2 linked regions of the Homo sapiens genome follow. The gene in region 2 interacts genetically with the main gene of each other region. Each region holds a gene or a part of one and is shown on either strand. Other genes may lie near its edges.

The links. Genes that interact genetically often act in the same process or in processes that back each other up.
Region 1: of SBF1 (region 2) and SUV39H1, a change in one rescues a mutant of the other (synthetic rescue), as found in Homo sapiens cells (one study listed by BioGRID).

Annotation. Positions count from the first base shown.
Region 1 is NC_000023.11:48,692,293-48,699,733, reverse strand, and holds the start of SUV39H1 (histone-lysine N-methyltransferase SUV39H1), read right to left. Parts: upstream 3,001-7,441; 5' UTR 2,950-3,000; coding exon 2,931-2,949; intron 833-2,930; coding exon 687-832; intron 1-686. UniProt on the Homo sapiens protein: Histone methyltransferase that specifically trimethylates 'Lys-9' of histone H3 using monomethylated H3 'Lys-9' as substrate. Also weakly methylates histone H1 (in vitro).
Region 2 is NC_000022.11:50,472,018-50,479,486, forward strand, and holds the start of SBF1 (myotubularin-related protein 5), read right to left. Parts: upstream 3,019-7,469; 5' UTR 2,824-3,018; coding exon 2,769-2,823; intron 1-2,768. UniProt on the Homo sapiens protein: Acts as an adapter for the phosphatase MTMR2 to regulate MTMR2 catalytic activity and subcellular location. Promotes the exchange of GDP to GTP, converting inactive GDP-bound Rab proteins into their active GTP-bound form.

The DNA.
Region 1 (7,441 bases), on a different chromosome or scaffold from region 2:
TGCACATCCCGTTGGCCCCACCTTCAAAATACGTCCAGTGACAAACCATCATCACTGCCACCACCCTGGCTCACCTGGACCCTGACAAGTCCTTGCCTGTTCTAGGCAGCTTACATGTATTATTAACTAACTTAATCCTCACAACCCCACATGAGGTAGATGCTCCTAGTTATCCCTCTTTTACGACAAGGAAAATGAAGTACTGAAGGTTTGGGTAGGTAGCCTGGGGTAACACAACCAGGACTGGAACCCAAGCATGCTGACTCCAGTTTGTTCTCCTAACCATCCTGCCACTCCCCCTTCTGGCAATAACTATCCCCATTTCAGTTGTTAGGGGATTAAATGAGTTTCCGAGAGGAAACGCCTGGCACACTGAAAGTGCTCAATAGCCATTAGCTATTGACATTTCCACTCCAGGGTTCAGCATCTCAATCTCTGCAATTACTTTGTATTCCTAGGGAGATGGGAAGAGATTTATTTGGGAATTCATTCCGGCTCCTGCCCAGAAAGCTACTTAGTTTCCCTATCTGTAACATAGGGATAAAAGGGTCTATTCATCCTGTGTTTTCAGGGTCAAAGGAGAAAATTCCCTTTGGAAACAGATGTGGGCAGTTGGGGACAAGAGGGCAGGACACTAACTTCCTTGTGACCTGTCCCCTCCCAGAGCATGGTCACCCCAGACTCACGCGGATCTTCTTGTAATCGCACAGGTACTCGACTTCAAAGTCATAGAGGTTCCTCTTAGAGATACCGAGGGCAGGGCAGGAGAGCTTGGCCAGGCGGCACAGGTCCTGCAGCTGATTCCAAGAAGACTTGCAACACACGCTGCAGCCTGGATCAAGCGGGGCAGAAAGAACTATTACTGGGCAGCCTGACTAGGCCAGGAGTCAAAGGGGACCCCAAATCCTCCCTGGGACATCCCAAAGACTGACTAAGAGTCAGGGAAATTTAATCCACAGGCCTTCCCCAGTGCTGAGACTGTTCTACAACAGAAATGTGCTTTGAACCCCAATACTCACTGCCCAAAGCTGCCCCTGGAGCAGCAGACCTCTAAGCGGGGTTTGCAACATGAATTGTCCTAAAGGAATCTATTTCCAGAGCTTCAAACTCCATGTCATTCCTAAAACTGCCTGCAAACCTGCTTTGGGTTCAGGACCTGATCACCCCTCTCTCCACTTTGCAAAAGAAAGAGAACAACCCCCCATCTCAGTAGGATGCAGTGCCCCGAGGTGGGGCGGATGGGAGGACAAGATTAAAACCTCCAGGGCACCAAACAAAGGCGTAACTGGAAAGACTGGTCTTTAATCCCTTATCTCAAACTCCTGGGCCAGATGTGTTTTGGAATTCAAAATTTTTTGGATTTTACAAGACTAGTTCTAGGATATCCCATACATCACCTAACACCCCCAGCGTGGCCAGGGGACATCAAGCTATAATCAAATGCATTAACCGTCCTGCAGCAAAAGTATGAATTTCCCACATTAAATAGGAGAAATAGAGATATAAAATAGCCTCACAGAAGAGTTCCACTTTATAATCTACTTTTGCCATAAATGGTGCCAAATTTAAGAAAAGGATTTCAGTTTTCAGGGCTTTTTAGATTTCGGAATTATGAGCAAGAGATTGTGGAATGATACTACATTACAGGAAGGCTCCTTAAATGATCAATCTGGGTGCCTTAAATCCACAAGGTATATTTTTTCACACTGCATTTTGACTTTCTGTCTCATCCATCTTTCTGTGAAGAGTAAAGCTCATCCAAAGGGTTATGCTCTGAATTTATACGCAAAGCGGTACAGATTAGTGACACTGATTCTTTTAAATATACCTGGTATATTTCTGGGACTGCCAAAATTTTGTAAGACACACGGATTTTAAAAAACAGATTTCTTTCTGATTCAAGGCACATTCTTAATCAAAGTACTTTAGAAGCCATTTTATCAAATCATGTCTCAAAACATTCCAAGGGCAGTCAGTCCTCATCCTATATCATCTTTTTAAAATGTTTAATATTTTCTGCCTCCCATTGCAAAAATCACACCTAAACTTTAGATGTCAACCTAAAAACGTACAAGAGCTTTTCAAAATTATTTCGTGTGCAAGCCCTACCCCCCCTACTTAGGCAAGACCAAGTGGAGACTGAGCCCGCCTGTGCCCACGCTTTCCTCTCCCTACAGCCTGTCCTCGCAAACCCCTTCCTTCACTTGCATTTGAAACCCCACTTAAGTGGTCCCAATTAACACCCTCCAGCTGCTGGCTCCGGAACTGGCCACAGGTGGACTCTCCTGAACCCCTCAGAGGTCCTCCCACTTGTGGAACCCATCCTCCCTGCGGCTTTCGTCACATAGAGGGGCCCCCCAACATAACTGAGTCACCCCTCTTTCCCTGCACATGGGGGAGTCCAGCTGTCCTATTAGGAAGGCCCCATTTCTCTCTTCTGGGAGATCCTCTATTCCAAACCCTTCCCCCATCACGCCGAGAGGCGATACTTTCCCCCAGAAGAGTTCTCAGTCCCCGCACTCTGAAGGGGGGGTCTGTCCCCCTTATCTTCCCTCCCCTTCCGGCGTCTCGCGTGGACACCGAATGGGTAACGGTCACCAGGGGCCGATTTTCCCGCGCGCGGGCGCGGCCTCCTCGACAAGCCCCCGCGCGTGCGCGCGCCGGTCCGGCCGCGATCTGCAGCGCGCGCCCCCCTCCTGCGTCCCCACTTAGCCCCAGGCCCGCTGCGTTCCGAGGCGCGCGCCCCCTCCCCTGAGCCCCGCCCAGCCCCGCGCACCAGGCCCGCGCTCCCCGAGCCTCATCCTTTCCGCGCCGAGCTTCCGGCTCCCGGCGCCGGGGCCTCGGACGCCGGGGCCCCGAGCCGGCAACGCCACCCCTCCAGCCCACCCGGCCCGGCCAGCGGGCCCGCGCCTCTGCCTCCACTGCTTCACCTTTTAAATTTTCCGCCATCTTTCCCCACGGCTAACGACATTCGGGCCTAGCCGGCCTCGCGAGAAGAGCGCTCGCGCGGGCGTGGCCGGGAACGCGCAGCCTATTGGCCGCGGCTCCCGACTCGCAGCACCCGCGCGGACCAACCGGAGAGCCGTGACCGAACCCCTCCCTGCCGCCCGGCTCGGTCCCGGAGGCGGGTGCTCGCCGCGCTTTCCCAGAGTGCGTCTGGGCGGCGGCGGCAGCGGGAGCGACAGCGGCGGTAGCTAAAGTTGCCAGAGGCCCTGCCCGTGCGCTGGTCTGTCTGTCACACTGCTAGCCAATCACGTTATCAGCCAGTCGCAGTGGTTCCTCAGTCCTGTCATACTCCCTGTTATCACCGTCAGTCAGCCCGTCATCTCATTTTAACCCCAAGCAGGCCGGGGCTCCCAGGTGGACTAGTGCCGTATCCAACTGCTCAGGCGGTCGCCCCAGACAGGTGCCTAGTCAGACTCCCGGCCCCCATCCACACTGCTGGGCAGTCAATACTGGCTTCCATTTGTGCCCTGGCCAGCGGCGACTCCCTGGAGGCAGGCAGACAGCACTGTTAGCCAGCCTGCCTTATCATTCCCTAAGACCATCCTGTCCTCACGTTGTCAGCAGATCAATCAGTCCTCCTCTCCACCCACCATAGCCCTGGGACCAGCTGCGATTCTCCCTGGCTAAATCCTCTCATAGACTGCAGCATCCAGCCATGCCCCCAGGCGGGCTGTGATTAGGTCGGGACAAGCTGTCACTGTCAGCATCTAATACAGCCCTGTCGGGCACTATCAGTTGGTCACTGTCTTTCCCTCAGATTACTTCTCATTCACACCACGATCAGTCACAACATCCAGCTAGGCCCTCAAAGCAAATAGTCACAGCAACTAGAGGTAGGATTAAGCCTCCACACCACCTGTCAGTGGGTCAGCCAGTCTGTCATTTCTCAGGCGACTCATCCCCACCATTGGTCAAGTCAGTCTCCTCTGATGCGTTGAAGCTGAGATTCTATCAGGGCAGACAGTCCGTAACCACGTACAGCCATCGAGTCAGACAGCTATGCCGATTTTGCTCCTGGCCAGCTGGCCTGTGACTCGTTCAATCCGCCCCTCATCACATCGTCAGTCATTCTCAGCATCCGACTGACCGCACCGTCTGTCAGGTGATCAGTCAGTCAGAGCACCCAGCCAGGCCCTCCAGCATGCTGTGATTCGAGCAGCGTGGATAGTTGATCACCAGATACAGCTGCCTAGCAAGCAGCCACGGGTCTGTTGATCAGTTAGCCTGAAGTTTCCCCAGGTGGCCCTCCTTTACACGGTGCCAGACAGTATAACATCTAGACATTCCCCCGCCAGCTGTGATTCCTGACAATAGTCATTCACAACATCCGGCCACCCAGGCAGGCAGTAGCACCACGGGCCATCAGTCAGCCAGCCTGCAAGGTCCTCAGGAGGCTGCCTGTCTTTTCCACTGTCAGGCTACCAGCCCCAGCCAGTCCTAGGCAGGCTGTCATTCAGTTAGATGTTCAGGAAACTGCGCTGTCACGTCCTCAAGTTGCGCCTTCTCCCTGTCACTCCATGAGTTCTGTAGTCAACCAAACAGTTATACAGTTAACCAAACGGATATTCTGTCTGCCTGCCAGTCCAGCTGTGAGCTCATTAAGAAGTGACTGGCTGGTCTGAGGTTCCGTCAGCCCCAGCTTGCCCTGAGGGGACAGACAGGAGCGAAGGTCCCACCATGCATCCCCTTCCCTCCCTTACTCCTTCTCGAGCAGAGTCAGGTGCTCATCCTCATGTACCCCCAGTCTCCTCGGGCAGCAGGGCTCTCCCACTCCCGGGTGTCCAGGAGACCTGTCCAACCCACAAGAGTGATTTAAGACAGGACCTCTGCCTGTCTGGATCTGAGAGGGAGACAAAAGGGTCTGTCGCCAGTAGTGCCCCCAAACACTATAAAGTAGTGGGCAAAAGTCTGGATTCTGGAGCCTGACTACCTGGACTCATATCCAGGCTCTGCCATTTACTAAATTACTTGATCTTAGGCAGTTTCTTAAACTGGTCTGTAAAACCTGCAGTAAGTGACCTTGGGGTGGGTGTCTCCTGCTCATCTGGAAAGTGAATCATTCTGGACTAGCACTTTTTCAGGAGACCTCAAAAGTTAAGAGGCCATCTTATTGCTACCGTGTCCCACTCCCAGCCAGTTGTCTGTTCATTCAGCATTAATTTAATGATTACTGCGTTGCCCAGTGCCGGAGCCAATATAAGGTTTTATTCACAGGTTTGACCTATTGTAATGTAAACCTCAGATTGGAGTGTAACACAAATACAGAAGGGTACACAGACCAGGGGTGAACACTGTAATGAGTTTTCACAAGCAGACCTACATGTGGAACCAGAATGCAGGCTGAGCAACCATTAAGCCAGATCTCAGAAGCATTTAATTGTTTCATATAAATTTATTGGGTACAAATATAATATTTTTTTTTTGAGACAGAGTCTCACTCTGTCACCCAGGCTGGAGTGCAGTGGCGTGATTTCGGTTCACTGCAACCTCTGCCTCCCGGGTTCAAGCGATTTTCCTGCCTCTGCCTCCTGAGTAGGTGGGATTACAGGCGTGTGCCACCACACCTGGCTAATTTTTGTATTTTTAGTAGAGATGATGGGGTTTCACCACGTTGGCCAGGCAGGTCTCAAACTCCTGGCCTCCAGTGATCCACCTGCCTTGGTCTCCCAAAGTGCTCGGATTACAGACATGAGCCACCATGCCAGGCCACAAGTGTAATTTTGTTACACAGATACATTGTGTAGTGGTGAAGTCAGGCATTTTACTGTATCCATCATCTGAATAATGTACATTGGCCTCCCAAAGTGCTAGGATTACAGGCATGAGCCACAGCGCCAGGCCACAAGTGTAATTTTTTTACATGGATACGTTGTGTAGTGGTGAAGTCAGGCATTTTACTGTATCCATCAACTGAATAATGTGCATTGGCCTCCCAAAGTGCTGGGATTGCAGGCATGAGCCACAGTGCCAGGCCACAAGTGTAATTTTGTTACACGGATACATTGTGTAGTGGTGAAGTCAGGCATTTTACTGTATCCATAGCCTGAATAATGCACATTGTACTCGTTAAGTAATTTCCTCATCATCTACTTCCTTCCCACCTCCCCACCCTTCCAAGTTTCTGTTGTTTATAATTCCACATGCTATGTCCATGTGTACACATTATTTAGCTCCCACTTACAAGTGAAAAGATTCAGTATTTGTCTTTCTGTTTCTGAGTTGTTTCACTCAAATTAATGGCCTTCAGTTTCATTCATGTTGCTGCAAAAGACATGATTTCATTGTTTTTTATGGCCGAATAGTATTCCATTGTGTATACCACATTTTTTTTTTGAGACGGAGTCTCGCTCTGTTGCCCAGGCTGGAGTGTAGTAGCGTGATCTCAGCTCACCACAACTCTGCCTCTCGGGTTCAAGCAATTCCCCTGTCTCAGCCTCCTGAGTAGCTGGGACTACAGGCATGTGCCACCACGCCCGGCTAATTTTTTGTATTTTTAGTAGAGATGAGGTTTCACCATGTTAGCCAGGATGGTCTCTATTTCTTGACTTCATGATCCGCCCATCTCGGCCTCCCGAAGTGCTGGGATTACAGGCGTGAGCCACCGCGCCCGGCCAACCAGAACACTGGATTTCTAAGATTTCTGTGGGGGACTGGGAGTAGGGATAAATGATGCTGATGGATCCTTCCTAGACTCAGTGCCCATCTGGGGACCTGGTCAGGGTGGGGTGGGGAGTGGTGTTGCGGTGTAAAGAATAATGAATTAAAGGAAACCTGAGACTCCCTCCTTCTCTAGCTTGGGGGAGTTCCCCTTTCCACCTAGAAATTCTTCCGTTGCTCTTGCAGACTGAAGAAGCCTGCCCTCTCTGGAGTCTCCCTCACCTTTATCTTCCTCCCCACTACCTTTCTCTTTTTCTCCTCCTCTAAAGGTAGGATGTCTGAGATCTCGAATTCACCAGATTTCAGAAATCGGAAGGGGCAGGGAGCTCAATTCTAGGCTTTGCTGTGCAACAGTTTCTAATTATGCCCTTGGAAATAGCTGTAAACGCCAAGGACGCTTTTGAGTTACTCCTTTGTTTCTGGGAGAGCAAGTCCTGAGGAGGCAGAGAGGTGACTCAGTGGGATCCCCGTTGGAAATCAGTTACCTCCATTGTATAGATGCGGAAACCAAAGCTCAGAGGTGAGGCATCTTTCCCGGGTTCTAGAGCAGATCTGTCTGATAATTAAGTCTTTGCCTTTTCCATTGCAATTGGCCAGTGCTTGATTTGAACTGGGAACTGGGCAGAGCCAAATTTTAAAAATGAGAGGGGGATCCTGCCCATCAAGATCCTGGTGTGTGAGTTGTTATGGGCATGGAGAATGGGGAGGTCTGCTCATTGAGTATGCTGCTCTTAATCTAGTATTGTGTTGATTGAATGATTTTTTTTTTTTGAGACGG
Region 2 (7,469 bases):
TCTCAAAGACACCTCAGCACTGGCCACGCTGTGATCAGGCCAAGAGCCGGGCAGAGGCAGTCTGTCTAGTCCTGATGCCTGCCCCAGAGCACAGAAGGTGATCCCTGACTCACCAGGTGAGGGGCCTGCAGATGGGCCAGCGCTGGCCACCATCACTCTCTGAGGTGAAAGGGTCACGGCCAGCACAGGCATTTACCTTCTCAGGGCCCCTCCCCACCTTTCCTGAGAGGTTTCCAGCTGGTAACCACTAGCAACTGGGATGCTGCCTCAGGCAGGACTCATGCACCCTCAGCACCCTGGTGCTGCACCCAGCAGCTCCAGACAGGATGTCCAGATCCAGGCCAAGACAAGCTATCCGCCAATCCTAATCCCCAACCCAAGAGACCCTGCATCCCGCCCTGAAGTCCTAGCCTGACAGAACAGAGAGGATCCTCTACCCACTCAGAAGTGCCTGTTGTGTCTGTGCCTAGAGAGTTCACACACCTGCTGCTCAGTCACTAATGAAAGAAACTCATCATTTCCAGGGCCTCCTGTGTGCTACTGCTTCACACCTGTGCATTCGCTGCATCCTCACGGCAGCCTGGGAGGTTAGCATGACTCACTCCATCCCCAGATGAGGAAACTGAGGCACAGAGAGCCAAACAACTGGCTCGAAGTCACAAGGCTATCAAGGGGCAAAGCAGAGACAAGTGACCCCCACGCCACACTCCTCTGCTTCTTCCCCCAGCTCCCACCGGCCCTGGTACCTGGCTCTGCCCTCAGCCCATGACCAGGGTCCCAGTCTATAGCCTTGTTCCCCTCAAGAATGAACAAGTCCTTCTAAGGGGTGCCTGGGGCTGCAAGGCCAGCAAGCAGCTGACCAGCTCAACCCCAGAAGGTAGTGGGTACAGGGCTCCACGGTCCTCCAACCCTACTGCAGTGGACCACTTATCACTCCTTCCGGTCACTTAGGGGAAGGGGGGGCACCTTGGGCTCCAGCCTTCTACCCTGTCCTGCGCAAAGGACACACACAAACAGGTGCCTGCACTACGTGTGGCTCCAGCAGTGAGCACACACGTCACAGCCAGCTTGTTGTGGAGCCCACTCTGCCTCTTCTCTCTGCCTACCTTCAACTCCTCACCCCACGGCCACCACGCCTCCCACCTGGCCTTTGCCTGCAGTCTCTACCAACCCAAACCCTCTCCACACTGCCCTCAGGATCATCAGGGTCATTATCAGCTGTTCCTGTAGCCCCCGCCCCAGCCCTCAGCCCAAGGCCCCTCACGCCAAGACAGCCCTCAGCCAGCCTTGCTTCCCTGGATCCTCAGGCACCCTCTGCCCCAGGTGGTAAGGCCTCCTCCATGCCCCTCATAGGTGCCTCGGTGCAGACAGCTCCCTCTGTGGGTCAAGACAACATTGACAGCCAACCTGCACAGTGGGGATGAGGACTATGTGGTCCTAGCAAGCGAGAACTCCCTCTCTAAAGAAAAAGACAGATGCTCATGACTGACGGTGCCATAAGACACACACTTGGATAGACATGAGCAGAGAGGAGTGTGTGCTGAGTAAGAGGGCACTGAGGAGGGGCTGGAGACGAAGAAGATGCTAAAGAGGCTTCAGGAAGTGTAGGGGGGTGTCCAGCAGAAGAAACACAAAAAAGAGAGAACTCCAGGTCCTTGGTGGGGACAGTGACAACTGGACTGACAAAAAACAGGGTAACTGGGAAGGCAAGCTCAATCCCACCTCCAGGCTCAAGATCCAGCCCCTGCCTGACCACACAGCCATCCCCACACACTGCCAGTCTGCAGCTGGGATCTGACAGCCTGAGTGCCAGTCCCAGCCTCTCTGAGCCGGCTCAGGCCAGGCAGTCAGCTTATCCGCGCCTAACTTCTCTACAGATGGGGGCAACACCAGGGCAACCCCGGTGGGCTGCTGGGAGGAAGAGGTGAGATCATGTACACAAAGGGCTGTGCGGGGCCTGGCACACCAAGCACGCTCGCCAACGCTGCTGTCTCCAGGCTGTTGCTGATGTCATCGTCAGGCTCCGTTTTCTCCTACCTCCTGGGCTGAAGAGCTCTCAGACACGGGCGCTGACCCCACACACAGACCTCCTGGGCATGGGCACCGACCGCCACGCTGATACCCCACCCAGGGCTTGGCGTGCAGGGCCTGGACCGTCAGGCGAGTCGCCAGGAATGCTCTTCTCTCTACTCTCGACGCTTCCTCCTCAAATCCTCCCAGTTTCAAATCAAACACCGCTTCTCCATGCACCAAACCCGAACTCCACCCCCTCTTTGCACCCCGCCAAGACCGCCGGGGGCTTCAGACGGAGCACCAAGGTCAGAGGCGGGCTGGCGAGCCGCGGGTCCGCGCCCCTGGAGCCACTAGAGCCACAGCCGCCCGCAGCTGGCCAAGGAGAGAGCCCGTCCCACCCCAAGGAGGCCGGGCAGGCCGGGCCCAGCCTTCTCTCCCTGCCGCCACCAGGCCCGCGCGGCCACGCCGCCCCCAGCGGACGCCCATTCTCCCCACGGGCTGTCCGGTCGGCCCTGGCCTTCAGTCCCCGCCCGGCCCCCGGCCCCGGCCCTCAGTCCTCGGCTCCCCCGACCCCGGCCCTCAGCGCCCAGCCCCCGGTCCTCGGCCCTCAGCGCCCGGCCCTCAGTCCTCGGCCTCCCGACCCAGCCCCCAGCCCTCGGCCCCCAGCCCCCGGCCCTCGACCCTCAGACCCAGCCCCTGGCCCTCAGCACTCGACCCTCGGCCCCCGGCCCTCAGCGCTTGGCCTCGGCACTCACCGCGCGGGTGCGGCCCGAACGCCACCAGCACGAAGTAGTCCGCGAGCCGCGCCATGGCGAGGGACGCGGGGCGGCCCGAGGGGCGCGGGCGGGCTCCGCGGCTCGGGGACTCGAGGACGGCGCGCTCATGGCCCGGCCCCGGCCCTGGACCGCGCACCCCGGACACCCCTGGTTCGCTCCGCGGCGGCGGCGGCGGCGGCGGCGGCGGCCCAGGTTCCCGCCGCCATCTTCCCAGCCAGCCGGCCCGCCCGGGCGCGCCGTGCGCCTGCGCGCTGTCGTCAAGCCCTGAGCGGGCGGGGCCTGCAACCGCGCATCTCCATTGGTCCAGAGGGTGGGAGGGCGGCTCCCGAGAGCAGCGCCCCGCCCATCGCTGACCACTCTGGGGCCCGAGCACCGCCCCTCGGGCCGGGCACCTGGACTACGGCTCCGGCGGGTCTGACGCCCTGACCCGGGTCGGCTGTGGTGTCGGCGGGAGGCATGGGCCAGGACCACAGCTGCCCTCGCCGTTGGGACTCCCCGCACAGGAGCCCGAACCCCACCCCTGGGCCGTCCCAATCTGGGGATCGGGTCCCCAGACTCCTCGTCCCCCGCCCCTCTCTGTCCAGCGGGAGAAAGGCGGGAGAAGCCTAGGCGCTGCCTACCGGGCCCCCCAAACTAGAAGTCAGAGGAGGCGCAGGGCCATCACCTCAGGGGCTGCCAGCCTGGCGATGGGGAACAGAGAGAGAATTCAGGCCCTGCCCTTGGGGTCCCAGGCTGAAGAGCCCCCATCTAGGCCAAGTGAGACATTTAACACAGCTTAAAAACGGCACGCTCATGTCCCCCTGTAAAGAGCAAATGTTCTAAGCGTGTGAGGCACATGAGGCCACGGAGCAGGGGGCTCTGGGAAAGCTGCATCCCCCAGGATCCCTGACAGTGCCCACCCCTCTCAAGGGCAGGGCTGGCCAGGGCCACCCCTGAAGTGGCTCAGGGATGAGCATGAGCCCAGAGCAGAACATGCTGGGAGAGAAGGTGCAGGAGCCAGCCTGGTGCAGCAGGGAAACCCCTCTGAGCACAGCAGGCCAAGGTCTGTTTTTTGTTATGTTTTGTTTTGTTTTTGAGGCAGAGTCTCAATCCGTCACCCAGGCTGAAGTGCAGTGACACCATCTTGGCTCACTGGAACGTCCGTCTCCTGGGTTCAAGCAATTCTCCCGCCTCAGCTTCCCGCGTAGCTGGGATTACAGGTGTGCACCACCATGCCCGGCTAATTTTTGTATTTTAGTAGAGAGGGGGTTTCACCATGTTGGCCAGGCTGGTCTTGAACTCCTGACCTCAGGCCATCCACCCACCATGGCGTCCCAAAGTGCTGGGATTACAGGCATGAGCCACCGCCCCCAGCCCGAAGGTCTGTTTTTTGTTTTTTGTTTGTTTTTGTTTGTTTGTTTTGAGACAGAGTCTCGCTCTGTCGCCCAGGCTGGAGTACAGTGGCGTGATCTTGGCTCACTGCAAACTCCGCCTCCCAGGTTCACATCATTCTCCTGCCTCAGCCTCCCGAGTAGCTGGGACTACAAGCACCTGCCACCACGCCCAGCTAATTTTTTGTATTTTTAGTAGCGACAGGGTTTCACTGTGTTAGCCAGGATGGTCTCGATCTCCTGACCTCGTGATCCGCCCATCTCGGCCTCCCAAAGTGCTGGCATTACAGGTGTGAGCCACCGCGCCTGGCCCTGAAGGTCTGTTTTTAAATGAGTTTGGCTGCTGCAAGAACTGGCCAAATGACTGGCATCCAGTCTCCATCCATGGGCAGGAGCCAGCCCAAGAGAATGAATGGAATCAAACTGAGAGGCCCCACCAGGGTCCCCTCCCTGCCCTCAGGCACAGGCCACGCTACGCCTCTCCTCTCCCACTGTTGGTTTTCACAGGTTGAGAAATCATCTTTTTAAAATTTAATTTTTTTGTAGAGACAGGGTCTTGATAAGTTACCTAGGCTTGTCTTGAACTCCTGTCCTCAAATGATCCTCCTGCATCTGCCTCAAAAAGTGTTGGGATTACAGGTGTGAGAAACTGTGCCCTGCCAGAAATCCTCCTTTTTGCCCCAGCTGGCTCAAGTTGGTTTCTGTCACTTGTACCCAAAAAGGTCCTCAGCACCACACTACCACACCACTGAGCTTGTGTGCAGGCTGGCAGGGGCCCGGGGCAAGTCTGGGCTAGTGCTTGAGCCCAGGGCTGGCTCTCTTCGGAGAGACTCTAGGGACCCTGCACCGCACTCTCCACTCTCTCTGAGACTCTGGGGACCCTGCGTCGCACTCTCTCCACTGTCATGCTTCCACCAGGCCCTTGGGAACAACCATCCACAGTGGCTCAGTGTCTCAGATGGATGGATGCCCCTCCCTACCGCCCAGCCTGCTGATTTCTGGTCAGCTGTCTTGCAGTCTGCACTCTCCTCGAACCTCTCACCCCACTTCCAGTGTCTCTGAGATAATTGGCTGCTCCTCAGAGAGCAAATAGAAGCTATCAGATGGGAGCACCAAGCCCCCATCTTACACCTCTCACACCACCCCTCCCTCCATTACCACAGGGCTCTGCCCCCCTGCCCACTCCTCATCTCAGGCCATCATTCACTGTCAGTGCCCGCCGCCAAACTCCATCCTTCCCTGTCTATGGATTCCTTGCTATCAGAGTCAAACTTACCTCTGCCATCATAAAACACTCAAACAAAACCCCCCAAAGGCCGGGCGTGGTGGCTCATGCCTGTAAATCCCAGCACTCTGGGAGGCCCAGGCGGGTGGATCACTTGGCGTCAGGAGTTTGAGACCAACCTGCACAACATGGTGAAACCCCGTCTCTACTAAATATACAAAAAATTAGCCAGGCATGGTGACGCGTGCCTGTAATCCCAGCTACTCGGGAAGCTGAGGCAGGAGAGTTGCTTGAACCCGGGAGGCGGAGGTTGCAGTGAGCCGAGATCACGCCACTGCACTCCAGCCTGGGAGATAGAGCGCAACCCCATCTCAAAAAAAAAAAGGAAAAAACCCCAAGATGCTGTTTGTCCAGCCAGTTGCCACCCTAGCTTCTTTTGCTTCTCACAAGCATTCCCCAAGGCCACCGCCCCCTCCTATGGCCCAGCCCTCGCACATTTGGAAACTTGTGTCTCCCCTTCACCTGTGTCCATCATAAGCGGTGCTGGGGCAGCCCCGTCGCTCCCCAGAAGCAGCTTCTCCAACTAAGAATGGACTCACATGCAACAAGCACCAGGGACCCTGGGAATCACAGACGGGGCCTCCTCTCTGGTGGGCTGGGCAGGTGCAGAAGCAGCAGCCAGGCTGATGCCTGAGGGCAGAGGATACACCCTCCCCACAAGCTGGCGGGAGGCAGGACTGTGGCTCACAGGGGCAGCAACTGTCCTGTCATCTCAGGGCCTGAAACGCAGCCCCTCGCTGGGGCTGTCCTCCACCTGTCCCAGATTAAAAACCTTGTGAGGGCTGGGCACGGTGGCTCACGCCTGTAATCCCAGCACTCTGGGAAGCCAAGGCGGGCGGATCATGAGGTCAGGAGATCGAGACCATCCTGGCTAACACGGTGAAACTCTACTAAAAATACAGAAAAATTAGCCGGGCATGGTGGAGGGCGCTTGTAGTCCCAGCTACTTGGGAGGCTGAGGCAGGAGAATGGCGTGAACCCAGGAGGCGGAGCTTGCAGTGAGTCAAGATCACACCACTGCACTCCAGCCTGGGTGACAGAGCGAGACTCCGTCTCAAAAAAAAAAAAAAAAAAAAAAAAAAAGCCTCTTGAGGACAGGGAATTTTTGCTGGTTTTTCTTTATTGGTGGGGCGAACGATTTGATTGCACTTGTGTTTTGAAAGGACAGAGCTGGTGGCAGTGTGGAAGGCTGAGGGCCGAGTGGGGAGGCAGCAGCAGAAGCCGCAGCAGCAGATTTGGGAACCTGGGGGATCCCCTGCTCAGGCCCTTCCCTACCTGCCCCTCCAGAGCTGGCGCTGGGCTCCATCCTTGGCCAGCCTCTCCGCATTCTCTGTGGATGAGGCTCACCATATCCTCCATGGCTGCGCCATCCCTGAAACCCCAAAACTGTTCTCGACCTGCCTTATCTTTAGTCCCATGCCTGCCAGGCTGGGGAGCGACCAGACCCCTCTCCCTGGACAACCCCCAGGCAGCTCGGCCTCAGCATGTCCAGGCCCCGACCTCTTCCCACCCCCTCAGCAGCTGCCACATCAGCAAACAGAAGGGCTTCGCCGGGAACTGAGCCCCTCATTTCCCGTCCTGCCCCGCTAAATTTCTCCCACCCATCCACTCTGTCCCCTCAAGCCCTTTCTGCCTGCCTCCCCAGCACCTGCCTTCTTGGCTGCCCCTCCACCTTTCAACATAAATGTGACACTTGGCCGGGCTTGGTGGCTCACACCTGTAATCCCAGCAGTTTGGGAGGCAGAGGTGGGCGGATTGCTTGAGGTCCAGACTTCAAGATCAGCCTGGCCAGCATGGTGAAACCCCGTCTCTACTAAAAATACAAAAATTAGCCAGGTGTGGTGGCAGGCGCCTGTAACCCCAGCTACTTGGGAGGCTGAGGCAGGAGAATTACTTGAACCTGGGAGGCGGAGGTCGCAGTGAGCCAAGATTGTGCCACTGCACTCCAGCCTGGGCGACAGAGTGAGACTCCATCTCAAAAAAGCAAACAAACAACAACAACAACAAAACACTGGGTGCAGTGGC